Linked DNA regions of Homo sapiens. The protein of the gene in region 1 purifies or fractionates together with the protein of each later gene. This does not show direct contact. Each region holds a gene or a part of one and is shown in the gene's direction. Other genes may lie near its edges. The genes, in order: SLC43A1, DSG2, ACVR1B, TMEM33, ABCB1, ABCD3 and ADCY6.

Region 1 (3,500 bases):
GGGGGCAGCCACCTCATGACTCACTGAGCATTGAGTAAAGCGAAGCAGCCCTTTGTCTCCTATCACTAGCTTTTCTCCTTAACTTGTCACAACTCCAAGTTGGCAGTTTACCGTTAAGGACAAGTCCTCCAAGTGGACTTCTAGAGGGGACTGGAGGGCAGTGCCTGGTTCTCATTCTGTGCCTCAGCTTCATCACCTAGGGAACGGGATACTTTATTAACTGACTTATGGGGCTGTTGTGTTTAGAACAGTGCCTGGAGCATAGTTAAGTGCTCAATAAGTATTAGCTATTATTTTATCAGACTATCATTTATCGGGAAAGCTTCCTCTAAGTTTTAGTGTTCTTTCTAAATTTCTTTTTTTTATTTAGAGATGGGGTTTTACCATGTTGCCCAGGCTGGTCTCAAACTTGTAGGCTTAAGCGATCTGCCTGTCTCAGCCTCCCACAGTGGTGGGATTACAGGCATGAACTACCACGCCGGGCCATTTTAATGAATTCTTGTTATAGCCATTAGAGTACCACTCACTGCCTTTGCCTTTGCCTCTAGATATGGGGGCACTTCTTGTTGGGGGTCCACAACCCCCTAAGCTTGGACACTGAGTGCATATTACAACTTAGTAAATACTTTTATGTCCAGTATTTCATTTGAGCTAGTTGAAGCCTCAGGCTGTGTGTGCACAAGACTCTCCCAGGGTCAGGTACTAATGGCTGCCATTTCTGGAGCAGCCCCATCAGAGGAGATGTGACTCTAGGGTACCCCCAAAGGCACTTGGCATGGGATTTGAAAGCAGGCCGCCTGACTGTGGGCTGCTGTCTCCTGTGCCCAGCTGTTCCTGGTGTCATGTGCTGAGCCCTCCCTTCCCCCTCCTCAGCTGAGAGCAGCACCAACACCACCCAGGATGAGCAGCGCAGGTGGCCAGGCTGTGACCAGCAGGACGAGATGCTCAACCTGGGCTTCACCATTGGTTCCTTCGTGCTCAGCGCCACCACCCTGCCACTGGGGATCCTCATGGACCGCTTTGGCCCCCGACCCGTGCGGCTGGTTGGCAGGTGAGGTGGCTGGGCTATGGGGAACGGGAGGACAGGGACCGTGCTGCAGGGGGAGGGGAGGGGGGGTGCTCACAGGCCAACCCCTCGCCCTTCCCTGTGTCTCCACAGTGCCTGCTTCACTGCGTCCTGCACCCTCATGGCCCTGGCCTCCCGGGACGTGGAAGGTGAGTTGTCTGTCCTCTTGTGGCCCCACAAGAAAAGAATAGGTGGGATGAAGGCGGATGTTTACCCCAGCTCCCGCCCTTGGCTTCCCACAGCTCCCCAAATGCCCTCATCTGCTGCTTTCCCCTTTCCAGCTCTGTCTCCGTTGATATTCCTGGCGCTGTCCCTGAATGGCTTTGGTGGCATCTGCCTAACGTTCACTTCACTCACGGTGAGTGTCACAGGCCTGGCCTGGCAGCAGAGTTCCCCCGAGTGGGGTGAGGGCAGAGTGAGTGGGGTGAGGGCAGTATGAATGGGCTGGGGGAGGGGCCTGTGGACGCAGATCACTAGATCAAGTGAGTGTGTGAGAAACTGTGCAGGTGGCTGCAAAGAGCAGGTGTGAGGCTGTGTGTGTGTGGATGAGGCTGTGTGTCGGGGTGTATGTTAATGTGTGTGTTTGTGTGTACAGAGCCCATGAATGTCCATGGAGCTCTGTTCTAGGTCCTGGACTACAGCACAATCAGGACTGACCGAGTCATCCTCCCTGCTGGAGGTTACATTTTGGGGGTGAGGGGCACAGATAACCCAATAAACAAGTAAACTAATAAATTATGTCAGTCGTCATAGGTGCTGGGAAGAAAATAAAACTGGGTAACATGATCTTGAGGGGGAGGGAGCAGCTTGAGATAGCGTGTGCACGCTTGCCATGTCGTGGGAGAGTGGGTGTGTGACCCCGTCCCTGTGAAAGCCATGAGTTGGTAGGTGTGTTTGTGAGTGTACTAGGTTGAACCATATGAAATTGTCGACACCTCGTCGTGCACATGGCTTGACCTATTACATGTGGTGAGTGGTGTATGTGTGTTGCTCAAAGTGTGTTTATTTATGTGAGTGTGTAAACGCGTTAAAGGCTTAGGAGTGTTAAAGGCTTAGGGAGGTTGGAGGGGAAGGTTCCTGGCCGGGCTGGCTCGGACTGTTTATCTCTGAGAAGGGCTGCCTGACTGGGTGGTTTTGGCTGAATTTCACCTCTCCCCAGCAGCCGCCTTTAATTCCAACCGGGGACATTTCACAGCTCTAAAGGAAGGAAGCGGATCCCTTTCTCCCCGCCCCTCTGCGCAGCCCCTTCTCCCTGCTGTGCAACTTGGCCCAGGGCCCTAAATCCCTTCTCTCCGGCGCTTGACCTCAGACCCTCCCTGGCGGCCGGGTGGGGCTTGTCCAGCGGCTCCTCCCTGCTATGTCCCCGCCTCCTGTAATCTCCAGCCAATGGCAGGGTCCGGCGCTGGCACCGCCCCTCAGCCTCTCCCCGCTCCCTCTGGCCGGCCCCGCCCCCTGGGCCGCTGCTCTTGGCCCAGACTTGGACGAGGACGTCCCGTGCTGAGTCTTGCGGGCCCAGCTGCTGTTGCCACGCACGCTGCAAGGCCGCCAGCCCGGGGTTAGCCGGCCGGCCTCGCCTTACCCACGGTACTGGGCGCAGACAGCGTTTGTGGCCCCTTGGAGGGGAGGGGGCCCTGCCCCTCTCCAGGCCTGGCAGCCTTCCGTGGCGTCCTTGGCAGTGGTGCCTCACGGATGCAGGGTGCAGGAAAACCTCTGCCTGAGTGGGTAGAGGTTTTTCCTGAGCCAGCCACTTCAGGGGAAGGGGGAAGGATAATTTAGTTATATGTGTTTAAACACCATTTTTTTTTTTTTTGTTGAGACGGAGTCTCGCAGTGTCGCCCAGGCTGGAGTGCAGTGGCGCGATCTCGGCTCACTGCAACCTCTGCCTCCTAGGTTCAAGCAATTCTCCTGCCTCAGCCTCCCGAGTAGCTGGGACTACAGGTGCACGCCTCCACGCCCGGCTAATTTTTTCGTATTTTAGTGGAGACGGGGTTTCACCGTGTTGCTCAGGCTGGTCGCGAACTCCTGAGCTCAGGCAATCCACCCGCCTCGGCCTCCCAAAGTGCTGGGATTACAGGTGTGAGCCACTGCGCCCGGCCTAAACGCCTTTTTTACCAGAGCTGTTGAGGCCTCCCTTCAGAGTCTCAGTTTCCCCCTCTGTGGAGTGTGTTTAGGCTTTGTACGGATCCTAAGGTCCTTCTCAGCTGTGGGATCTAGTGACTTGGGGAGGATGGTGGGGCCAGAGGAGGGTGTGTGCGAAGGGCATCCTGACTTTGCCTTCCCCTGCCCTGAGGGCTTGGCTGAGGCAGGTGAGTGGAACACATGATCAATTAAATTCTCTCCTGGTGTGGGTTCTGACCCTGCTCTGCGTCAGAGCCACCTCCTCTGGAGACTGTCTGCCCTGGCTCAGTTCCCTCCCTTATTTCCACCCTCACCT
Region 2 (3,500 bases), on another chromosome or scaffold:
GGCAGCCTAGGCTAGTGCAGTGACAGAGGAGAGGTCTGTTAGACAAGGGGTCCCCAACCCCCAGGCTACAGACCAGCACCTGTCCATGGCCTGTTAGGAACCAGGCCGCACAGCAGGAGGTGAGTGGTGGAAGAGTGAGTGAAGCTTCATCTGTATTTACAGCCACTCCCCATCACTCGTGTTACCACCTGAGCTCTACCTCCTGTTAGACCAGTGCTGGCATTCGATTCTTATAGGAGCTCAAACTCTATCGTGAACTACTCATGCCAAGAGATCCAGGTTGCGTGCTCCTTATGAGAATCTAATGCCTGATGACCTGTCACTGTCTCCCATCACCCCCAGATGGGACCATCTAGTTGCAGAAAAATAAGTTCAGGGCTCCCACTGATTCTACATTATGGTGAGTTGTATAATTATTTCATTATATATTACAATGTAATAATAATAGAAATAAAGTACACAATAAATGTAATGCACTTGAGTCATCCCAAAACCAACCCCCCTACCCCTAACTTCCCTGTGGAAAAACTGTCTTCCATGAAACCAGTCCCTGGTGTCAAAAAGGTTGGGGACTGCTGTATTAGAGCCATTGGTAGATGTGCAATTGAAAGCACAGCACTCAACAGTCTGCAGTGTACTTTTATACCATCATCTCCATGCTATGGCTACATATACAGATACATAACGGTAAATGACTTGTCTCAGCTTACCAAGTTTGTAGGTAGGTACTGGAGCTGGGACTGTATCTTTTGCTCAGGGATTCCTTGCACTGCTTTCTCATCTCAGATTCCCTGGAGCCTAATGTGGTACTTGGCACATAATAGACACTTGATGAATGTTTGTTAAAATTGTTGAATTGCCACTGGCTGATTTCAGTCTTCTTATTAATCGTAGTAGCTGTAGTTAATGTGCTGTTGACTGTTTGACATAAAAACGAATCTAGGCAGTAGCCAGTTCATCATTGGAAGCTGCCAAATGGGAGTGGCAGATGGGCATGCAGGTGTGTTTAATTCTTTACTACATTGATCAAGGGGTCAGCCTTGGTCTTTGCTTCCTCCTAGGGGTAAAATAAAATCTAAGAAGAGGGCTCTGAAATTGTTATATGTTTCACTTTATTATTTCTAATTACTGTTTTCAATAGTACATATATTTTTGCAACAGTGATTTTTTTTTAATTGGACCATAGTTTTAAAAAAATTAATCTTTAAGCTGGTTTTGATGATTTGGATACTATCTGAACCTAGTCTTGGTATTCCACTCAGCAGCCACAGACAGCCTCTTTTTGATGAACAAGGCCTTGAATCTGTAAGACTCCCTCATCCTGCCTTCGGGTTTTGGAGTAATTCACCCAAAACAAGCTTGGTAAGGTTGGATCAGGGTGAAGAAAAGAAAAATAGAGCTGTAAATAAGTGAAGACAAGTCCAGGAAGGGACATGCAAATTCCAAAATTGTGCAATATAAATTTAGAAATATATCAAGGTTAACCTTATCTGTGTTCAATTTTGTGTCTGTACAGTGGTACCACTTTTACTGCTGATGTGCCATTGCGGAAAGGGCGCCAAAGGCTTTACCCCCATACCTGGCACCATAGAGATGCTGCATCCTTGGAATAATGAAGGAGCACCACCTGAAGACAAGGTCAGTGGATCAGATGTCAATATGACTTGTCTTCTTCTTGGGTTTTAAAGGGGCCTAGGGAAGTGTTTCTTACATGTTTGGTTGAGTGAGTAAAGTGATCACTATGGATTTCACTCATGTGCCTTTGTTAAGCAAAGAGTTCAAATGACAGCATATTTTGTGTTTGTTGCTGGGGCAGAATTGAGATAGTTTTACTCTGTTTTGACACTTCCCATGTTGTAGAGAATGTAGAGCAAGGTTCAGGAAGAGCAAGAGTGTGTAGGAATCTAAGTCTTTTGTCCTAACATTAAATGGGCAGTTTTCATAACCAGGAACTGCTTCATTTCCATTTCCCTCAATACATAGGGTTTGCAGAGGTAAGCCCACAACCCCCATGACACTTGTAAAATGTTGCAAAACCCCATTTCCCAACTACATCATAGCCATATCCCTTTGTCTCTCTGTTGCACCTTCACCCTGGACCTCTCACCACCATCTGTTATGAGCACCATTTCTAATAGGATAGGATTTAGCATCAGGTGGCAGAGAACTCAGAATAACAGTGGCTTAATCCTAAAATGGGCATTCCAAGATCAACATGATGATTCATCCGCAGCATGGTCCCCAGTTCCCTCTTCCTTGTTTTTCTTCCATGGTTGAGTTCCATTCCCACACTGTCCTCATGTCCTAGTTCTAGCTACCTAGCTGCCGTCCCCACATTCTAACCAGCACATGGGAGAAAAGTGAAGAACCCTCTTTAAGCACACTTCCCGGAACTTGTGTACACCATTTCTGCTTCATTCACATTGACCACAGTTTAGTCAGGTGGCTATACCTAGTGGCATCAGAGGCTTAGAAATATAGTCTTTATTTTGGGTGGCCATGGATCCAGGTCAAAACAAAGTTAAGAATTCTGTAACTATAGAAGAAGGTATCAAACTGTAGAGGGAGGTTGAAATGCCATTGGTCGCATAGAGTAAAGGAGCTGAGACTGTTTGGGCTTTGTTTTCTCTTTGGGTTCTATCCACCTATAAAACAAGAAGAGAGAAGAAAGGAGATCTTCATAAGACTTACATAAGTTATTCAACTCAAAATACTTTTTCTAACTGGCCTCAGTGGAAATAGCTTATACCTTCCTATGCCCACTTGACTCAGATCCTTCTACCAAGGATGAAGGATTCCCTCCATCCTCCTGACTCAGTTCTCAGCTGTGTTTGCTCTCACAGGTGGTGCCATCATTTCTGCCAGTGGATCAAGGGGGCAGTCTAGTAGGAAGAAATGGAGTAGGAGGTATGGCCAAGGAAGCCACGATGAAAGGAAGTAGCTCTGCTTCCATTGTCAAAGGGCAACATGAGATGTCCGAGATGGATGGAAGGTGGGAAGAACACAGAAGCCTGCTTTCTGGTAGAGCTACCCAGTTTACAGGGGCCACAGGCGCTATCATGACCACTGAAACCACGAAGACCGCAAGGGCCACAGGGGCTTCCAGAGACATGGCCGGAGCTCAGGCAGCTGCTGTTGCACTGAACGAAGAATTCTTAAGAAATTATTTCACTGATGTAAGGATGAGTTTTATGTATTGGTGGTGGGGGGTGGGGGGAACATTTGTATGTGAATGTGATATTATTAGGGTAATCATTGCCTTGGATCCAAATGAGACTTTGGGTTTTTTTTTTTTTTCTTTTTTCAGGGAATACTTATAGGCAATAAGGAAAGAGAAATGGGACCCACAGAATCAGTCGGTGTTAGCTAAATTATGCTGCAGTAACCATGATCTTAGTTCTCACACAGGCATATTTCTCACTTACAGTTATGTTTTTGCCAGTCAGTCAGCTCTGCTTTCCTTCATGATGTCTTCATATCAAGATGCACACTGAGAGAGC
Region 3 (3,500 bases), on another chromosome or scaffold:
TTAATACATGTAGTTAGAAGTCCCATTTCCAGACTGCAAACTAAACATATGCATGTTGAGTACCTACCATGGTGATCTAGGGCAGTGGTCCCCAATCTTTTTGACATCAGGGACTGGTTTCGTGGAAGATAATTTTCCCACAGGGGAAGTAGGGGAGATATGATTTTGGGATGAAACTGTTCCACCTCAGATCATCAAGCACATCAGGCCGAGGTGGGTGGATCACCTGAGGTTGGGAGTTCAAGACCAGCCTGGCCAACATGGTGAAACCCCATCTCTACTGAAAATAAAAAATTAGCCGGGCATGGTAGTGGCAGCGCATGCCTGTAATCTCAGCTACTCAGGAGGCTGAGGCAGGAGAATAGCTTGAATCCGGGAGGCGGAGGTTGCAGTCAGCCGAGATCACGCCACTGCACTCCAGCCTGGGGAACAGAGTGAGACTCCTCAAAAAAAAAAAAAAAGAAAAGAAAGATCATCAGGCACATCAAGCATGTTAGATTCTCATAAGGTGCATGCAAGCTAGATGCCTCGCATGCGCGGTTCACCGTAGGTTTCCCACTCCTATGAGAATCTAATGCCGCCGCTGATGTGACAGGAGGCAGAGCTCAGGTACCCGCCTGCCACTTACCTCCTGCTGTGTGGCCTGGTTCCTAACAGGCCGTGGACCAGTACCGGTCTGTGGCCCCAGGGGTTGGGGACCCCTGATCCAAAGGGTCCCTTGACACATATTTATTGAGCACCTGTCATATACTAGGCATTGTTGCAGGTGTTAGGGATACAGTAGTAAACGAAAGGAGACAAAATTGCCTTCTCTCAGAAAGCTTACCTTCTGCCAGGTGAGGTGGACAATAAACAAAAGTATAAAATGTAAAGCAGTTGTGCCTACTACAGTCCACCTTCTGCTCCTCACTTCCCCAAGATTCCCCATGTTTGGTGTACACACACCTGCTTCAGGTATTCAGTCAAATGCTAGTCTTTGTAGATAGAATTAAGGTCTCAATCAGTTGACCTTTAGCCATCTAAAGGAGGTTATCATGGTGGGTCTGTCTTGATTGAACTAGCCCTTTCAAAGCAGAGAGATTTCTCAGCTGATTGCACAAGAGGAAATCAGATGTTCCAGCTGGCTTGGAAGCAAGCAGACGTCCATGTTGTGAACTGCCGATCCCAACAGCCACATGGCAAGGAACTGCAGGCAAACTCTAGGAGCTGAGAGTGGTTCCCAGCTGACAGCTAGGAGGAACATGGGGACCTCAGTCCTTCATCTGCAAGGCAGTGGATCTTGTCAACAACCAGTAAGCTTGGAGGAGGACCCAATCCTAGATGAGAAGGCAGCCCTAACTGGCACTGTCGGTGCTGTGCCTGGACTTCTGACCTGTAGGAACTGTGAAATAGTAACTAGGTGGTGGTTTAAAAAATGTATGCATTGGGTGGGGGTGAGTCAAATGGTGATGGTGAAAATAGGTAAAGCAAGAGAGGGGAATAATGAGAAATACCCCAAGATAGGCATGAGGGTACTTGAGACCTGGTGCCCAGCCATCCCATCACTCACATATAAAAATAAATCCTTTGACCACATGTGGCTTTCATCTGACTATAACTTTTTTCTAGATATTTGTGAGTGGAGGGGAGAGGGGATTGTGGATGCTTTGGAAATAAGTTTTTTAGGTGCTTGGGATGTTTGAGTTGAGGAATCTGGGAATTGAAGTATTTTCTGGGTTTTTTTTTTTTTTGTGGTAGAGGACTCACCTTGCCCCACATCCTTGTATATTGCTTTGGTATATGTTTGCATATTACCTTTTATACCTGTAGAAGATAAGATTGAATTGTAATCAGTCAGTGTTCATTTCTGATATCCAGGATGTGCCTAGCACCAAGCTGAATGCTGAGAGGGATCCTGAGGAAAGAGTCTGTCCTTGCCCTTTGGAAGTTTACACACAGAGACCGGCCACAGTGGCTCATGCCTGTAATCCCAACACTTTGGAGAATGAGGTACAGGGGATCGCTTCAGTCCAGGAGTTTGAGACTAGCCTGGGCAATATAGTGAGACCTCGTCTCTACAAAACATTTTTAAAAATTACAAGGGCTTGGTGGCGTGTGCCTGTGGTCCCAGCTACTTGGGAGGCTGAGGTGGGAGGATAGCTTGAGACCAGGAGATTGAGGCTACAGCAAACCATGATTGCACCACTGCACTCCACCCTGGGTGACAGAGTGAGATCCTGTCTCAAAAAAAAAAGTTTACACACAAATGGACTTTTTTTCTGCTTGTTGGAACTACCACAAACTATGAGGAGTTCAGGTGACAATTGTAATAAAAGCATCTGATTTGCTGAATGTTTACTATATACTAAAGTATTATGCTAAGCACCTGTGTTGTATCATTTACTCTATGTAGTTATTCTTTGAGGGGCTAGGGGCTCTTATTCCCATTTTACAGATGAGAAAACTAGGGCATAGAGAAGTTAAGCAGTGGGTCCAAAGTCTATCCAAGTCCAAAACATGTGCTCTAAATATTGTACTGTGCTATAAACTGTGAGTACTGTAAAAGTGACCTTCTAACCAGGCTCTCTGCCTTCAATCTCCCATTTGTTTTCCATCCTACGGCTAGATCTAACTTTGGAAATGCACCCTGTTTGTCTGACCTAGAGGTTGTGTGGCTTCTAGGATCAACTCTAGACCCCTTAGCTTAGCATTGCAATCAGTTTCATCTGGTCTTAGTCTCCCTGACTCTTCTTGCCTTTGGCTGGAACCTTGGCATTGTTCGAACTGTCAATTTACTCTGAACCCAGTGTAGCTAATATTTTTTCACAGCCCTTTGCTTTCCCTTTTCCTTTTCTCTGGAATGCTTCTCCCCACTTCTCTTCCTAGCCAAACCCAGCGTCCTCCAGTGTGGACCTTCGTCCTCTTGTGTTCTCCCGGTCAGTGATTCCATCCTCTCTGCTTTTCCCCTCAGCCTGTATTGGTAGTTGGAGTTGCACTGTTTATAGTTGTCTTCTCCCACTCTCCATGCCCAAAGAATTGGTGCGGGGAGCTGGCTTATTTGTTATATGGCTTCGGCCTGCACAGAGCCTTGCATGTTTCAAGTACTTAATAAGTTTGTTTAATTGAATTAATTCATTTCTTTTCCATCCTCTCAGTAAAATCCTAGGTAAATAATTCCAATTCTGTTTTGCTCTAATGTTATTATAATCTTGTATATATAGTATTTTAAACCTACTCAAAAAATGCCGCAAACATTTGTGAGTTACTTGGAACATCATAATCTCTCTTTCTACCTCACCTCTTTCATCTCTGTTTATCCTACCACCTACCCATTTTATTCCAGCCAAATGAACTTGATCTCTCAACCTCATTAGTTTTATTCTCAGTTTGGCTGATTTCTTTTTTCCTTTTCCATTGTCCCAGTTGCCTGAAACAATCATTCCTATCCCTCTTCTCACTCAAAACTGTGACATACACGGTCTCCTCTCCATTCGTCCATACTATAATAAATAGGTCAGGAA
Region 4 (3,500 bases), on another chromosome or scaffold:
CATTAAGCATATACATGAAACATGTAATTGCCTTAGAGTTTTCACCTAATGATCTAAAAAAACAAATGGAGGAAGATTAAAATATTTTGAGTAGACATAAAAACCACACAGTCTTGATGCTTAAAAACATGATTTGCAGGCATAGCTTACAGTATTTTTCTTTTTAAATTTAGCAATTCATGATGACCAATAAACTGGACACGGCAATGTGGCTTTCTCGCTTGTTCACAGTTTACTGCTCTGCTCTGTTTGTTCTGCCTCTTCTTGGGTATGTATTATACATATTGCTGCCTTTGATATTCAATTGTTGAGTCAGTTTATATGGAGTGCCTTTTAGGTGTAAGACTTATTAACCTGTAAAGGGTTTAGGGACAAATAAAATACAAGTTCCAGCCTTCAGGTACTAACAACCTAATAACATTATCAGAGGAATATTTTATATCTTGTGCTTTGTGAAACTAACACATTGAAAATCCAAGGAAAAATTGATGTGTGGGAATGAGATAAGTTCATGTTTTTTTCATTTTTACTTATTACTTGACAGGAAGGTCCTGCTTTATAAAATTCAATTTTATAAATTGATTATAAGAAATTCAGTTGGGCATATATATGAAGTGAAGCTATTAAAACGGTAGAATAAGTTCATGTAATTTTTTTCTATTGACAAGTGATTTAGGTGTTGTGCAATTATGATGCAATTCACAAAGGAGGAAGAGACACTGCAGTTGTTTATGTCTCATGATAACCTCTCCTCTGGTAATTTGCAGGTTGCATGAAGCAGCAAGCTTTTACCAACGTGCTTTGCTGGCAAATGCTCTTACCAGTGCTCTGAGGCTGCATCAAAGATTACCACACTTCCAGTTAAGCAGAGCATTCCTGGCCCAGGCTTTGTTAGAGGACAGCTGCCACTACCTGTTGTATTCACTCATCTTTGTAAATTCCTATCCAGTTACAAGTATCCTTTTCTACCTTGTTAACAATGAAATTGCCAACTAAGCATATAGGAGATCTCTTCTGATTATTTCAGCAATGAAGGCATTCCATGAAGCCTGGGTTTGTTCTCGGCACTTCATTTGAATGAAGATATGTTTAGTGTAAGAATTTCTGACTTTAAAATGTGAAATCTAAACTTTGAAGAGCTGATTTAGGAATTTTAAACTATCTTTGTTCTTGCCTCTTGTAAGCTTCCCTATTAGAATGGATATTTTCAAATTCCCCTTCGAAGCACAACCTTACGCAGAACTTACTTTAATATTTACATTTTTTTCATTTAATTCACGTTTTTGGCAAAGTGTCCAGATGTCTTGCTTTAAAAAAGAGAGGTCCTCAGCTCTTTCCATCTTAACCCCAGTGAACTAGATACAAATGGAATTTAACCAAGAAACAACTTATTTAAGCAGGTAATGAGATAATCAATACAAAGAAATTAATATTTGCTGTGTATAGAGTAGAAAATAAGGACACACATGGATAATCCGTGAAGCTAATGAGAAATAATTCATTTGGAATTTGTATGTTTTCACATTTCAAAGGTGTGTTGTGGGATGATACTGGGTAGTCCATAAAGGAGGGGAAAAATGGGGAAGAGGTTCTATAGTGAACACTAGGTTAAACTTTCTTTTTTTTTTTTTTTTTTTTTTTTGAGACAGAGTCTTGCTCTGTTGCCCAGGCCACCTGCCTCTGCCTCCCAAAGTGCTGGGATTATAGGCGTGAGCCATCACGCCCAGCCAGGTCAAACATTTTTAAATAGGGTTCTTTACTATAGTGGCTTTGGTATTCTAACGTGTGTTGTGAAACTAAGAGAGTTAGTAGGGTTTTTTAAACTTAAATTTGTGGTTGTTTTTTTTCCTGTAGATTATCTCTGCAAATCATTTTGTGCATTGAGAAGTGCTGGTCTAAGAGCTTTTGAATATTTATGATACATCTGTATGTTATGTAAAGCACAATAAAATATTCCTCTGAGACTGAATATTACCTATTTAGATACCTATGCTCATGAAGTATCAAATTTTTAAATAGATTTTTATAAGTCTTAAGGAAAAGAAATAGGAGGAAACCGAAATTTCCTGAGCACCTATTTTGCCAGTATAAGAACTTGAATTTAGGCCAGGCGCGGTGGCTCACGTGCGGTGGCACTTTGGGAGGCTGAGGTGGGCGGATCATGAGGTCAGGAGATTGAGACCATCCTGGCTAATATGGCGAAACCCCATCTCTACTAAAAATACAAAAAATTAGCTGGGCATGGTGGCATGTGCCTGTAGTCCCAGCTGCTCGGGAGGCTGAGGCAGGAGAATCGTTTGAACCCTGGAGTGGAGGTTGCAGTGAACTGAGATTGTGCCACTGCACTCTAGCCTGGGCGACAGAGCGAGACTCCTTCTCAAAAAAAAAAAAAAAAAAAAAAAGAACTTGACATTTAATCTTTGTAGCACTCTGAAAAAAATTGTTGTGGTATATTTTTAATAAAGATGCTGATTTGCTGATTGTCAGTATTCACTTCCCACACATTGGCTAGTAAGTAGTAATGCTGAAAAAGTCTTTCTAACTTAAAAGCTCTACCTTATCTACAGTTAGTGGGTGAGTAATACTTAAGTATACATTAAAAATATTTCTTTCTGTATGTGGGTAAACCTGGTAATTTCATTTAAATATTCAGTATATGGAGATTCCCTTTAAATTACTCACTTCACTGAGATAATGTGGGTAGTTTGAAATGTAAGGATAAAATTTTTCCTGTTTCAATGCATGAGTCTGTAATGTCCCATCATAATTTGTATTGGTTTATTTTTAGGTAAAACTCATTAAATGATTACTATACTACAACTGTAAATGATAATCACATTTGTTTGGCATATTATTGGCTTGACCAGCCTCTGTTGATTGAAGTGCTTTGCAGTCACCAATGTTAAAATTCTAGCCTTTCTGAGCTATAACGGGAAGTTATGTAGAGATTTTTGGTCATGCCTTTTAGTAGCTTAAAATTTCTTTGGAGGGAGAAATAGAAATGACAGAAAATGTGTTTCAATGTAGGGTAAACTGAATACGTCAATAACTTTGGGAACAGTGCCTCACACAGATCAGGCACTCAGTAAGTTTTGTTGAGTGAATCCTGAGGTCTTGCCAAATGAGACTCATGACTGGTGAAGAAAACCTTTCTGCCTTTTTATACAGTTGGTTATTTGGTAGCCCCTCTTTCCTGGGAATGTTGAAGATTAAGGATTTCATATTCCTTAAATTCTTACAAAGGGAATGTAGTAAACAGTGGGAATAACATAAACTAGTAATTGGCAGCAAATGCTAATCTGATTATTAAAGTGATATGGTAATAAATAAAAGCGGGCCCAAAGTAATATTACAGATTTGCGTTCTGATCCTTCTTCTTATAAAAGTGATATTTTGTCCTTGCTTGATTAATAACAGATAGGGCATTTCACCTCTTATCTTTTCTAAATACATTGTATTAATAGTTTAAGAGTAATGTTGAAGACTAAGATTATGAATCT
Region 5 (4,233 bases), on another chromosome or scaffold:
AAAAAAAAAAAAAAAAAAAAAAAAAGAGGCCGAGCTGTAGCTCACGCCTGTAATCCCTGCACTTTGGGAGGCCGAGGCGGGCGGATCACGAGGTCAGGAGATCAAGACCATCCTGGCTAACACAGTGAAACCCAGTCTCTACGAAAAATACAAAAAATTAGCCGGGCGTGGTGGCGGGAGCCTGTAGTCCCAGCTACCTGGGAGGCTGAGGCAGGAGAATGGTGTGAACCCGGGAGGCGGAGCTTGCAGTGAGCCGAGATCCTGCCACTGCACTCCAGCCTGGGCGACAAAGCAAGACTCCGTCTCAAAAAAGAAAAAAGAAAGAAAAACAAAAGAAAACTTCATTGTATTGTAAGGCCAAGAACAAAATATATCAAGATAAGGAAAATTTGTAGTCAAGAATAGAAAAAAATTATGGCTTTGAAGTATGAGTTATTTAAAGAAAGTGGAAACATCCTCAGACTATGCAGTAAAAAACAAAGTGATTTTCTTCTTCTAAACTTATGCAATAAACTGATAGGTAATATGTGAAAGTCATAGAATGTAGACTAGAGGATACAACAAACCTATTTCCTCTATGTTCATAAGAAGTAAGAAAAGCTCTGATGTGAGTTAGCATTGCTTTACAATTTTGAATTGTGCAGATTGCACGTACTTTTCCTCAGTTTGAAGTAAATAGTGGACAGGAAAAAATATTAAATGTTGGCAGTAAATATGGAAGGAAATTACAACTAATGTAATATGCTAAAACATGCTATGTTTATTTTACTAATTTGAATTAAAATGTAAGAATTTAAAATGCCCTGGAAAAACACGGGCATTGATCTGACGTCTGAAGTTTTAAAATATTACACACTTTGAAATAGCATTTGTACCTTGAAATACCTGTCTCTATATATTTTTTAAAACTTCCTTTTTCTTTCATTCCATTTATCATCAAATAAAGGATGAACAGATGTAACTCAGAAACTGTCAAGCATGCTGAAGAAAGACCACTGCAGAAAAATTTCTCCTAGCCTTTTCAAAGGTGTTAGGAAGCAGAAAGGTGATACAGAATTGGAGAGGTCGGAGTTTTTGTATTAACTGTATTAAATGCGAATCCCGAGAAAATTTCCCTTAACTACGTCCTGTAGTTATATGGATATGAAGACTTATGTGAACTTTGAAAGACGTGTCTACATAAGTTGAAATGTCCCCAATGATTCAGCTGATGCGCGTTTCTCTACTTGCCCTTTCTAGAGAGGTGCAACGGAAGCCAGAACATTCCTCCTGGAAATTCAACCTGTTTCGCAGTTTCTCGAGGAATCAGCATTCAGTCAATCCGGGCCGGGAGCAGTCATCTGTGGTGAGGCTGATTGGCTGGGCAGGAACAGCGCCGGGGCGTGGGCTGAGCACAGCCGCTTCGCTCTCTTTGCCACAGGAAGCCTGAGCTCATTCGAGTAGCGGCTCTTCCAAGCTCAAAGAAGCAGAGGCCGCTGTTCGTTTCCTTTAGGTCTTTCCACTAAAGTCGGAGTATCTTCTTCCAAAATTTCACGTCTTGGTGGCCGTTCCAAGGAGCGCGAGGTAGGGGCACGCAAAGCTGGGAGCTACTATGGGACAGTTCCCAAGTGTCAGGCTTTCAGATTTCCTGAACTTGGTCTTCACGGGAGAAGGGCTTCTTGAGGCGTGGATAGTGTGAAGTCCTCTGGCAAGTCCATGGGGACCAAGTGGGGTTAGATCTAGACTCAGGAGCTCCTGGAGCAGCGCCCAAACCGTAGTGGCACTGGACCATGTTGCCCGGAGCGCGCACAGCCCGCGCGGTGCGGGGACCTGCTCTCTGAGCCCGCGGGCGGTGGGTGGGAGGAAGCATCGTCCGCGGCGACTGGAACCGGGAGGGAGAATCGCACTGGCGGCGGGCAAAGTCCAGAACGCGCTGCCAGACCCCCAACTCTGCCTTCGTGGAGATGCTGGAGACCCCGCGCACAGGAAAGCCCCTGCAGTGCCCATCGCGGCCAGAGCAGCTGGGGCATCAACGGCGGGCGCTCCCTCTTACTGCTCTCTGGCTTCGACGGGGGACTAGAGGTTAGTCTCACCTCCAGCGCGCCTGAGGCTCATGCATTTGGCTAATGAGCTGCGGTTTCTCTTCAGGTCGGAATGGATCTTGAAGGGGACCGCAATGGAGGAGCAAAGAAGAAGAACTTTTTTAAACTGAACAATAAAAGGTAACTAGCTTGTTTCATTTTCATAGTTTACATAGTTGCGAGATTTGAGTAATTTATTTCTAGCCTCCAGCTCTGAAATAAATGACATGTTGTTGTTTTTAATTATTTTTAAGAAACGCAAGCTAGCCTTTGGAATCAATATCCCTGCTTAGAGCAGAAGTTTGTTGGCTGAGTGGAGCACAGCATATGCATTTTCCCTGTCTTTTTTGTTCTTTCTTTTAATGATACATAATATTTTACATATTTATGAAATGGGGTACATGGAAGCGTTTTTTACATGCCCGGAATGTGTAATGATCAAGTCCGGGTATTTGAAGGATACATCACCTTAGGTATATTTCATTTCTATGTGTTGATAACATTTTAAGTCTTCTAGCTACTTTGAAATATACAATATATTGCTAACTGTAGTCACCCTCGTCTGCTATCGAACATTGGAACTTATTTGTCCTATCCAACCGTTCTTAGTCATTCACCAACCTCTTTTCATTTCACCTTTTTACCCTTCCCGGCCTCTTTCCCTTAGTCTTGGTGTGCCTCTTTCTCAGCTTTCCTGCCCCAGACAGGCGGATGCTCATATGTGTTTCTGTCTTATGAACTTCTGCTTTTCAAGTGGTGTTGGTCGCCCACACGTGAGCCATATGCTGCTGGTGATCTGCTCTGTGGTCCAGGCTCTTGCTTCCGGTAAATGGCTATGTAAACATCGCGTTTGTGGCCTGGCTGATGAGACAGAAGGTCAAAAGTACATTTAGGTTGTTAACTGGCAATAAATATCTGTATATAATATTGGTAATGTAATCATATAGGGAAAATAATTATTTAAAGTAAATTTTGATCATGGTGCTCTGCCTTTATAGAATATTTAAAACTTCACTAAATAGATTCATTGTTAGTAGTAAATTGTAAAATAGACTAGTAAGTTTAATAATATTAGAAACTGTAATGTAAATTATAAGATAAATTAGTAAACACATTAATATTATAAGAAACCAAGCTTTTCAGTGTAAGAGAAAAAATACAAATGTGGAAATCAAATACATTTTTAAAAATAATGTTAAGTTTGAATTAGAAATTTCAATATGAATTCATAATCTTTTAATAGTTCATTTTCAGTCCACTGAAAGGGACAGTAACAATGAGCACTGTTAGTACCAGATCTGGGTTTCTAAATACCATTCCTCCCTAAAAGAAATGAACCCCTCAGTAGCTAATTTCAGCCAGGTCTGGGACAGGAAAAATAGAAAGTGAGCCTGGAGTATCTTGTGGTACCTGAAAATAAGGAAGTGGAGTTTAATGGAGTAGTCGAAAGCACACTGAAGCTGTCTGGAAGATGCTTCCAATGGCCAACTCTGGGACAATTTGAGCATCAAAGAACATCGTAACTGTAACTGATTTTGAGATACTGAATGCTACTGCTGAATGCTTAATATTCTGAGAGAAGGGAAACTGAAAGAAAGTGTGAGAGGTAGAGAAAATAAAGCAATGATCTTTAGAGAAAAATTCCAGCTATCATTTTGGAACTTCCATTGTTATAATAGATTCAGGCAAGGATTGTCAATGAACTCTAAACTATCAGAAAAATGTTGTATCTAAGAATTTTCTTCAGAATGTTTACTAATTGGAAGGAGAATATGCTTCTCCAATTAAAGATTTTGCAGTTAGCACCTTAACCGAGTGATCAGACCTGGTATCTCTCACGGTAGAATGGACTGTAGTAAATGACTCATCACTTGGATTTTGAGTAAACAACATCACCTAGCAAATATTAATATATCTGCAAAAACATTTAGTCTGTATACAATTAAACTTGTAGACTGGGGCTGTCCAATGGATATATCATGTGAGCCACATTTGTAATTTAAAATTTTCTAGTAGCAACAGTAAAAAATGAAAATAAAAAGATAAAGTAATTTTGTAAATATATTTTATAGAACTCAATATGTCCAAAAGATTGGATTTTCTACATGTAATCAAAATGATTAATAAGATAGTTTACATTCTCTTTTATGCTAAATCTCCTGTTTGATGTGTA
Region 6 (3,500 bases), on another chromosome or scaffold:
AATGTCCATCAGTGATAGACTGGACAAAGAAAATGTGGCACATATACACCATGGAATACTATGCAGCCATAAAAATTATGAGTTCATGTCCTTTGTGGGGACATGGATGCAGCTGGCAACCATCATTCTGAGCAAACTGTTGCAAGGACGGAAAACCAAACACTGCATGTTCTCACTCATAGGTGGGAATTGAACAATGAGAACACCTGGACCCAGGGTGGGGAACACCACACACCGGGGCCTGTTGTGGGGTGGGGGCCTGGGGGAGGGATAGCATTAGGAGATATACCTAATGTAAATGACGACTTAATGAGTGCAGCACACCAACATGGCAAATGCATGCATATGTAACAAACCTGCACGTTGTGCACATGTACCCTAGAACTTAAAGTATAATCAAAAACATAAAAAAAAAATTAAGTGTATTTTTACAGAGGTTGCTTAGGAGCCTTATTTAGTGATTCCCACAGAAAGAATTTGTTCCTGAAGCATTCATGAAAATACAATAAAGATTATTATGTAAAGCAAGAGTCAGCAAACTTTTTCCATAAAGGGCAAGATAGTATGTATATATTTTAGGCTTTTCATACCACACAGTGTCTTGCAACTATTCAGCTCCGCTACTCAAGAGTAGCTATATATAATACATGAATGAGTGGGTGTGGCTATGTTCTAATAAAACTTTACTTAAAAAAACAAGTAGCAGGCTAGATTTGGACTATGGGTCAGAGTTTACTGGCTTTTTGTTTTAAAGAATATAAGCATTGTTTCTTGTGAAAGCTTTACTTCAGTTTTTATTTAATTGCCACTTGGAAAATTTGAATTCAAGTACTTTTATTCCATTATTTATTCAAAAGATATTGAATGCCGTCTAGTTGCCTGTGCTCACTCCAGGTGCTAAGGATGATGGTGGTGGACATGATGGATAAAATCTTGCCTTTAAGGAGCTTACATTTTAGTGGAAGTCTGAAGTTTGTGAAATTAAATGTATATTTTAGATGAGTTAAAGAGGTTAAAGAAATTGTCATTTTAAATTATTTCAGAAATTGGATTTTTGCCTCGTCGGTATTTAACATGGCAGAACTTTTAGAGTGCTCACTGGTAGAATGCATTTAAGGTAATTTTTCAGGGGCCTGCAGTTCACCAGTTTGCTCTCCACACGGCTTGCTTATTCTCATCCTTTAGATTTTCAGCCCAAATGTTAACACCTTATTGAAGCTTTGTCTTCTCTGATCAGCCTATTTGAAATGGCCTCCAACAGTTACTTCTTGTTTTAATCATCATCTTTCCTTAAAAGTATATATATATTTGCAGTCAACCCTCTGCATCTGTGGGTTCCAAATCCATGGATTCAACCACACAGATTGAAAATATTCAGAAAAAGAAATTGTGTCTGTACTTATGTACACATATTTTTTTCTTGTCATTATTCTCTGAACAATACAGACATTAGTGTAATAGCTATTTACATTGTATTAAGTTTTATAAGTAATTTAGAGATGACTTAAAGTGTTTGGGATGAGCCAGTTGCGGTGGCTCACCCCTGTAATCCCAGCACTTTGGGAGGCTGAGGCGGGCAGATCAGTTGAGGTCAGGAGTTCGAGACCAGCCTGACCAACATGGCAAAACCCCATCTCTACTAAAAATACAAAAATTAGCCGGTTGTTGTGGCGGGGGCCTATAATCCCAGCTACTCGGGAGGCTGAGGCAGGAGAATCACTGGAACCCAGGAGGCGGAGGTTGCATTGAGCCAAGATGGCACCACTGCACTCCAGCCTTGGCGACAGAGTGAGACTCTGTCTCAAAAAGTAAATAAAGTGTATGGGATGTCGTACTCAGGTATATGCAAATACTATGCCATTTTTCATCAGGGACTTGAGCATCCATGGATTTTGGTATCCAGAAGGTCCTGGAACCAATCCCATCCCCTTTGGATACCGAGGGATGACTGTATTACAGTCTCTAATTATCTTGTTTACTAGTTATGCTCTTTCATTAGAATGTAAACTCCATAAATTCAGGGACCTTCTCTGTTCTATTCATTGTATCTCCAGCTTGAGCACAGTGTCTGACACATGGTAGTCATTGAATAAATGTTCCAGAGATTGTCTAGTTGCAGAAGATACCAAGTTGTTAACAAGCTACCCTGTACTCAGGAAGCCACATTTTAGTGGAGCAGACAATAAATAAACAACTAGATGTTCTGTATAATTTCAGGTAGTAATGAATTCGGTGGCCAAAAATGAAGCAGGATAAAGGGATAGATATGAAGGGGGCTATTGCCCAGCTACTTTAGCTGGAATGGCCAAGATCTTTCTTGAGGAGGTGACATTTAGTCAGAAATCCACATGAAAGTGAAGGAGTCACAAAATATAGATACCTTAGAAGAATGTATTCCTGGCAGTGAGAAGAGCAAGAGGAAATCCTTAAGAAGGTACATGTTTGAGAAACCGTTATTTCTGGAGCTTGGTGAGGAGGAGCAAAGTAGAAGCATATGACCTTAAAAATAGAGCTCAGTGCCAGATCATGCAGGACCTTGAATAATCTGGTAGATGGACAGTTTGAGAACACTACAACTCCAGAATAAAAAAGCAGTTTTAGACTTGTAGTTTTAAGACAATGCGTGCTCATGTTAAAGCTAAAACTGAGGCTGTGTGGCACTGATTTACATTAGCACTCAGTTCAGATTGGGTGTAATACAATTCTTAGATAAAGCACAGACCATGTGTCTCCACTGAAAGCAAAGCATTCAGTGCCAATCCGGACAGCTAGTGTTTCACTCAAACTAGTTAATCTCTGTTCTTTTTGCTTTCGTTGTTGTCCTCTTTTGGGATATGTGTATCCAAAAGCATGGTGACTACAATAGCATTGTGCTATTGCATGCAAGAGAAACAGCATTGTTAAAATTGTTTATGTAATTTCCATGCTGTTTGCATAAAAATGGTTTCATGAAGTGTTTGTTTGGCACCCGCTCTGTGAAGAGCATTGTCCTCGGTGGTGTGATGTACAATATAAACAGAATATAAACAGAAATCACGGGCACTCAGTAAATATTTGTTGAATAAATGAACTATACAGTTTGTTTTATCCTTATAGTAGATTCAGTTTTTTATACAGAGAAAAAGATGGTTTTTTGTTTTTGTTTTCTGCCAGGTGGAACACCTACATAATTTCATTTTGTTTCGGTTTTCAATGGGCTTCATTGATAGTATTATTGCCAAATGTAAGTATATTTTGAAAGAGATGAGATTTGTGGAAAAGGTGAAATACTGTTACTGTTTTAAATCTTACCTGTTTGGTTTCAGACCTTGCCACTGTTGTTGGTTACCTAGTTGTCAGTCGCCCTTTCTTAGATTTGTCTCATCCTCGACATCTCAAGAGTACACATTCGGAACTTCTAGAGGTAAACTGATGATAATACAATGAAAATGTAACAGTAAAAATAAAGCCAAATTTTTAGTCATAGAACTATAAGTAAAAACTAATATTTATTTCTATTT
Region 7 (3,500 bases), on another chromosome or scaffold:
CTTAGGAGTGTTGTGTGGGAGCAGGAGCCACCCCCCTGGCTCTCCCTCCCTCCCTCAGGTGCTGTCCATACCTTTCCTTTCATTGTTTCTCACATGGCCATGCCCATGCAACTGGTGAAACCATGTCTCCTGCCCTCAGCCGGGGCACCCAAGATGCCCTGAACCCTGAGGATGAGGTGGATGAGTTCCTGAGCCGTGCCATCGATGCCCGCAGCATTGATCAGCTGCGGAAGGACCATGTGCGCCGGTTTCTGCTCACCTTCCAGAGAGAGGATCTTGAGAAGAAGGTTTGAGGGATACAGGGCAGAAGGACAAGGGCTGGGGGAGGGGCAGGTCGCAGCAGGGAAGGCTGAGCACAGGTGAGGGCACAGGTGTTTCTGGGGGATGGAGAAGGGACCACAGAGCAGGGTGAGGATTTCATCAGTTGAGCCAACTGCATCTCCTCCCTGTTGAGACCCCTGGTAGTGCCCTGTCCTTGCTGTCCCTGCCTTCCTTAGGGAGGGCCCAGCACTCAGCTCAGCCTCCTCTCCCTCAGTACTCCCGGAAGGTGGATCCCCGCTTCGGAGCCTACGTTGCCTGTGCCCTGTTGGTCTTCTGCTTCATCTGCTTCATCCAGCTTCTCATCTTCCCACAGTGAGAGCCCTGCCTTTCCTCTCTTAGCTTCTCTCTTCACCACTTCCCAGAAGCTTCCTAAATACCCACACAAGCCCACAATCCCTGGAGCCTGCATCCCTGCTTGTTCCAGAGGGTGGGACAAGAATGCCCAGATCTTCCAGAATTAAATGATTTTTCTGGCCCTGTTCTGCCCCAGCTCCACCCTGATGCTTGGGATCTATGCCAGCATCTTCCTGCTGCTGCTAATCACCGTGCTGATCTGTGCTGTGTACTCCTGTGGTTCTGTACGTAAGGGGATTTCTGAGGCTGTTGGGGAGGGCAGGCTGGACTCCAGACAGGGAGGAGGTCACATGGGGAGAGGGAGAAGGCCATGCCTCTTCCACTGGGCCCCATCCCTGGTTGCCATTCCTCCTTGGCTGATACAACCTTCAACTCTTGGTCTCTTGATGCCTCTAGCTGTTCCCTAAGGCCCTGCAACGTCTGTCCCGCAGCATTGTCCGCTCACGGGCACATAGCACCGCAGTTGGCATCTTTTCCGTCCTGCTTGTGTTTACTTCTGCCATTGCCAACATGGTAAGGGTCCAGTGGGAATTCTCCCACCTCTGCTCTGTGCCAAGCACTGTCCTGGACACTGGGAGTACAGCGGAGAAAAGGACATATTTTCTGCCCTCAGGGAGCCCCCTCCCAGAATAGGGGAAGGTTAACTCCGGTTCTCCTTCCTTGTTCTCCCAACCTCTTGTCATCCCTGAGTGAGTACTAAGGCCCATGGGGTATAAGGTACCTGGGCATAGCCCAGGTTAGGGTACATGGCTTCACCAGGTACCTTGCAACCCTTTCCCTCCTTGGTTACCCTGATATACCCCTCCACTTTTGCAGTTCACCTGTAACCACACCCCCATACGGAGCTGTGCAGCCCGGATGCTGAATTTAACACCTGCTGACATCACTGCCTGCCACCTGCAGCAGCTCAATTACTCTCTGGGCCTGGATGCTCCCCTGTGTGAGGGCACCATGCCCACCTGCAGCTTTCCTGAGGTGTTCGAGCAGTGCTCAGGCGGTGGGGGGGCTGTCCTGGCACAGACATTGGCCCTTCTGTGCCAGGCCTGGTGATGGGCGCTGGGGACCCAGGAACTCACCAGAGTCTCCCACACTAGGAGCAACCAGGGGCCCTGGTGTGTTGTAGGGGCTGGGCATGGAAGGTGGAGGATATGGGGGTTTGAGGGGTGTGGTGGGAAGGTTAGGTCAGGCAGGAGAGTGCAGGGCTCTCCCTGCCCAAGGGTGCTGTGGCCTCTGCCTTCACCCAACGCTGCCTCTGCCACCCCCGCAGTACTTCATCGGGAACATGCTGCTGAGTCTCTTGGCCAGCTCTGTCTTCCTGCACATCAGCAGCATCGGGAAGTTGGCCATGATCTTTGTCTTGGGGCTCATCTATTTGGTGCTGCTTCTGCTGGGTCCCCCAGCCACCATCTTTGACAACTATGACCTACTGCTTGGCGTCCATGGCTTGTGAGTTTATTCTCAGGTCCTTTAATACCCCAGGAGCTTCCCTCACCTTTCTAGGTCACTGTGAGCCTCTCTGGTGCCCATGCCCCTTGTGCCTTGGAATGCCACAACACCCCTGTGGGGGAAAGGGAGGAGATGGAGGAGCTCCCAGCATGTGACCCCAAATAGTTACCCCCAAGGAAACCCTAGTCCTGGGAAATCCTTGTGTCTTTAGGCTAGACATTAAAAAAAAAAATTCCCTCTTACATTTGCATGGTGCTTTCACATCCACCATCTTAACCACCTATAGGACATACAGCTGCTTGGTGGCAGGGCTCTGGTTAGGAACCAAAGCTTCTGATTCCTGCTTGGGGGCTTTGCCTGGGACACCACACTGGCTTTTCCTCTGCAAAACCCCATTCCTTTGATATGTGGCCATAGCTTGTTGTAGTAGAAAAAGCCTCTGGTCTCTGCTGGGTTTGAATCCCTGCTCTGCTGCTCATTAGCTGTGTGACTTTAGACAGGTGAGTTAGCTTCTCTGAGCCTCAATTTCTTCATCTGTAAAATGGCAATGTCACCTAAATCACAGGGTAGTTGTAAAGATTATAGTAACTAACATTTATGGAAGGCTGACTATATGGCAGGCACTGTGCTAAGCCTTTTACATACATTATTTAGATCTGATCCCTGTTGTACTGATGAGGAAGGAGGCTTAGAGAGTTAAGCGACTTGTCTCAGGTCACATAGCTGGTAAGTAGAGGAGTCTCTAAGAGCAGAGGTTTTCTTAACCTCTACTCTTAATGAGTTAATTAATGTAAGTAAAAGCCCTGGCCCAATGCCTGACTTACAGTATGTGCTCAGTAAATGCAGTCTCTTGTCTCCCCTTCCATGTGCCCACCCAGCAATCCAGGAAGCACTGATGACTTTGTCTCTTCTATCTTCTTACCAGGGCTTCTTCCAATGAGACCTTTGATGGGCTGGACTGGTAAGTGAGGGCTCCGAGGCAGCAAAGGGTAGAGCCATTAGATGCCTCCTTCAGACACCAAGCATGTCTCTGCTTATCCTTAGTCCAGCTGCAGGGAGGGTGGCCCTCAAATATATGACCCCTGTGATTCTGCTGGTGTTTGCGCTGGCGCTGTATCTGCATGCTCAGCAGGTGGAGTCGACTGCCCGCCTAGACTTCCTCTGGAAACTACAGGTGACTGTGTGGGCCTTTGGGGGAAGAGGAGGAACCTAGGGGCGGAGCCTGGGCCAGGCCAGAAATGTATCTTGTGCTAGCTGGCTAAGGCTCAGGCCACACCTAGGCCCACCCTGGTTCCATTCCTTCTCTGTGCCCATCCCTTACTCCCTGCCCCATCCTCTACCTGCCCCCTTTACCCCTTTGCCTGTTCTTTAGGCCTCAT

What was found.
Region 2: the proteins of SLC43A1 (region 1) and DSG2 purify together in Homo sapiens (affinity purification with mass spectrometry; one large-scale study listed by BioGRID and IntAct). This does not show direct contact.
Region 3: the proteins of SLC43A1 (region 1) and ACVR1B purify together in Homo sapiens (affinity purification with mass spectrometry; one large-scale study listed by BioGRID and IntAct). This does not show direct contact.
Region 4: the proteins of SLC43A1 (region 1) and TMEM33 purify together in Homo sapiens (affinity purification with mass spectrometry; one large-scale study listed by BioGRID and IntAct). This does not show direct contact.
Region 5: the proteins of SLC43A1 (region 1) and ABCB1 purify together in Homo sapiens (affinity purification with mass spectrometry; one large-scale study listed by BioGRID and IntAct). This does not show direct contact.
Region 6: the proteins of SLC43A1 (region 1) and ABCD3 purify together in Homo sapiens (affinity purification with mass spectrometry; one large-scale study listed by BioGRID and IntAct). This does not show direct contact.
Region 7: the proteins of SLC43A1 (region 1) and ADCY6 purify together in Homo sapiens (affinity purification with mass spectrometry; one large-scale study listed by BioGRID and IntAct). This does not show direct contact.

Annotation. Positions count from the first base shown.
Region 1 is NC_000011.10:57,498,703-57,502,202, reverse strand, and holds part of SLC43A1 (large neutral amino acids transporter small subunit 3), read left to right. Parts: intron 1-828; exon of another isoform or gene 829-873; coding exon 874-1,051; intron 1,052-1,159; coding exon 1,160-1,215; intron 1,216-1,347; coding exon 1,348-1,424; intron 1,425-3,500. UniProt on the Homo sapiens protein: Uniport that mediates the transport of neutral amino acids such as L-leucine, L-isoleucine, L-valine, and L-phenylalanine. The transport activity is sodium ions-independent, electroneutral and mediated by a facilitated diffusion.
Region 2 is NC_000018.10:31,539,677-31,543,176, forward strand, and holds part of DSG2 (desmoglein-2 preproprotein), read left to right. Parts: intron 1-1,516; coding exon 1,517-1,638; intron 1,639-2,469; exon of another isoform or gene 2,470-2,645; intron 2,646-2,843; coding exon 2,844-3,176; intron 3,177-3,425; exon of another isoform or gene 3,426-3,500.
Region 3 is NC_000012.12:51,958,199-51,961,698, forward strand, and holds part of ACVR1B (activin receptor type-1B isoform a precursor), read left to right. Parts: intron 1-1,061; exon of another isoform or gene 1,062-1,292; intron 1,293-1,857; exon of another isoform or gene 1,858-1,989; intron 1,990-3,500. UniProt on the Homo sapiens protein: Transmembrane serine/threonine kinase activin type-1 receptor forming an activin receptor complex with activin receptor type-2 (ACVR2A or ACVR2B).
Region 4 is NC_000004.12:41,938,429-41,941,928, forward strand, and holds part of TMEM33 (transmembrane protein 33), read left to right. Parts: intron 1-173; coding exon 174-268; intron 269-767; coding exon 768-955; intron 956-3,500. UniProt on the Homo sapiens protein: Acts as a regulator of the tubular endoplasmic reticulum (ER) network by modulating intracellular calcium homeostasis. Mechanistically, stimulates PKD2 calcium-dependent activity. Suppresses the RTN3/4-induced formation of the ER tubules.
Region 5 is NC_000007.14:87,598,085-87,602,317, reverse strand, and holds the start of ABCB1 (ATP-dependent translocase ABCB1), read left to right. Parts: upstream 1-1,433; 5' UTR 1,434-1,492; coding exon of another isoform or gene 1,493-1,563; intron 1,564-2,127; coding exon of another isoform or gene 2,128-2,133; coding exon 2,134-2,201; intron 2,202-4,233. UniProt on the Homo sapiens protein: Translocates drugs and phospholipids across the membrane. Catalyzes the flop of phospholipids from the cytoplasmic to the exoplasmic leaflet of the apical membrane.
Region 6 is NC_000001.11:94,484,389-94,487,888, forward strand, and holds part of ABCD3 (ATP-binding cassette sub-family D member 3), read left to right. Parts: intron 1-3,153; coding exon 3,154-3,223; intron 3,224-3,305; coding exon 3,306-3,403; intron 3,404-3,500. UniProt on the Homo sapiens protein: Broad substrate specificity ATP-dependent transporter of the ATP-binding cassette (ABC) family that catalyzes the transport of long-chain fatty acids (LCFA)-CoA, dicarboxylic acids-CoA, long-branched-chain fatty acids-CoA and bile acids from the cytosol to the peroxisome lumen for beta-oxydation.
Region 7 is NC_000012.12:48,772,090-48,775,589, reverse strand, and holds part of ADCY6 (adenylate cyclase type 6), read left to right. Parts: intron 1-139; coding exon 140-287; intron 288-535; coding exon 536-633; intron 634-811; coding exon 812-899; intron 900-1,071; coding exon 1,072-1,188; intron 1,189-1,491; coding exon 1,492-1,650; intron 1,651-1,942; coding exon 1,943-2,121; intron 2,122-3,046; coding exon 3,047-3,082; intron 3,083-3,165; coding exon 3,166-3,295; intron 3,296-3,500. UniProt on the Homo sapiens protein: Catalyzes the formation of the signaling molecule cAMP downstream of G protein-coupled receptors. Functions in signaling cascades downstream of beta-adrenergic receptors in the heart and in vascular smooth muscle cells.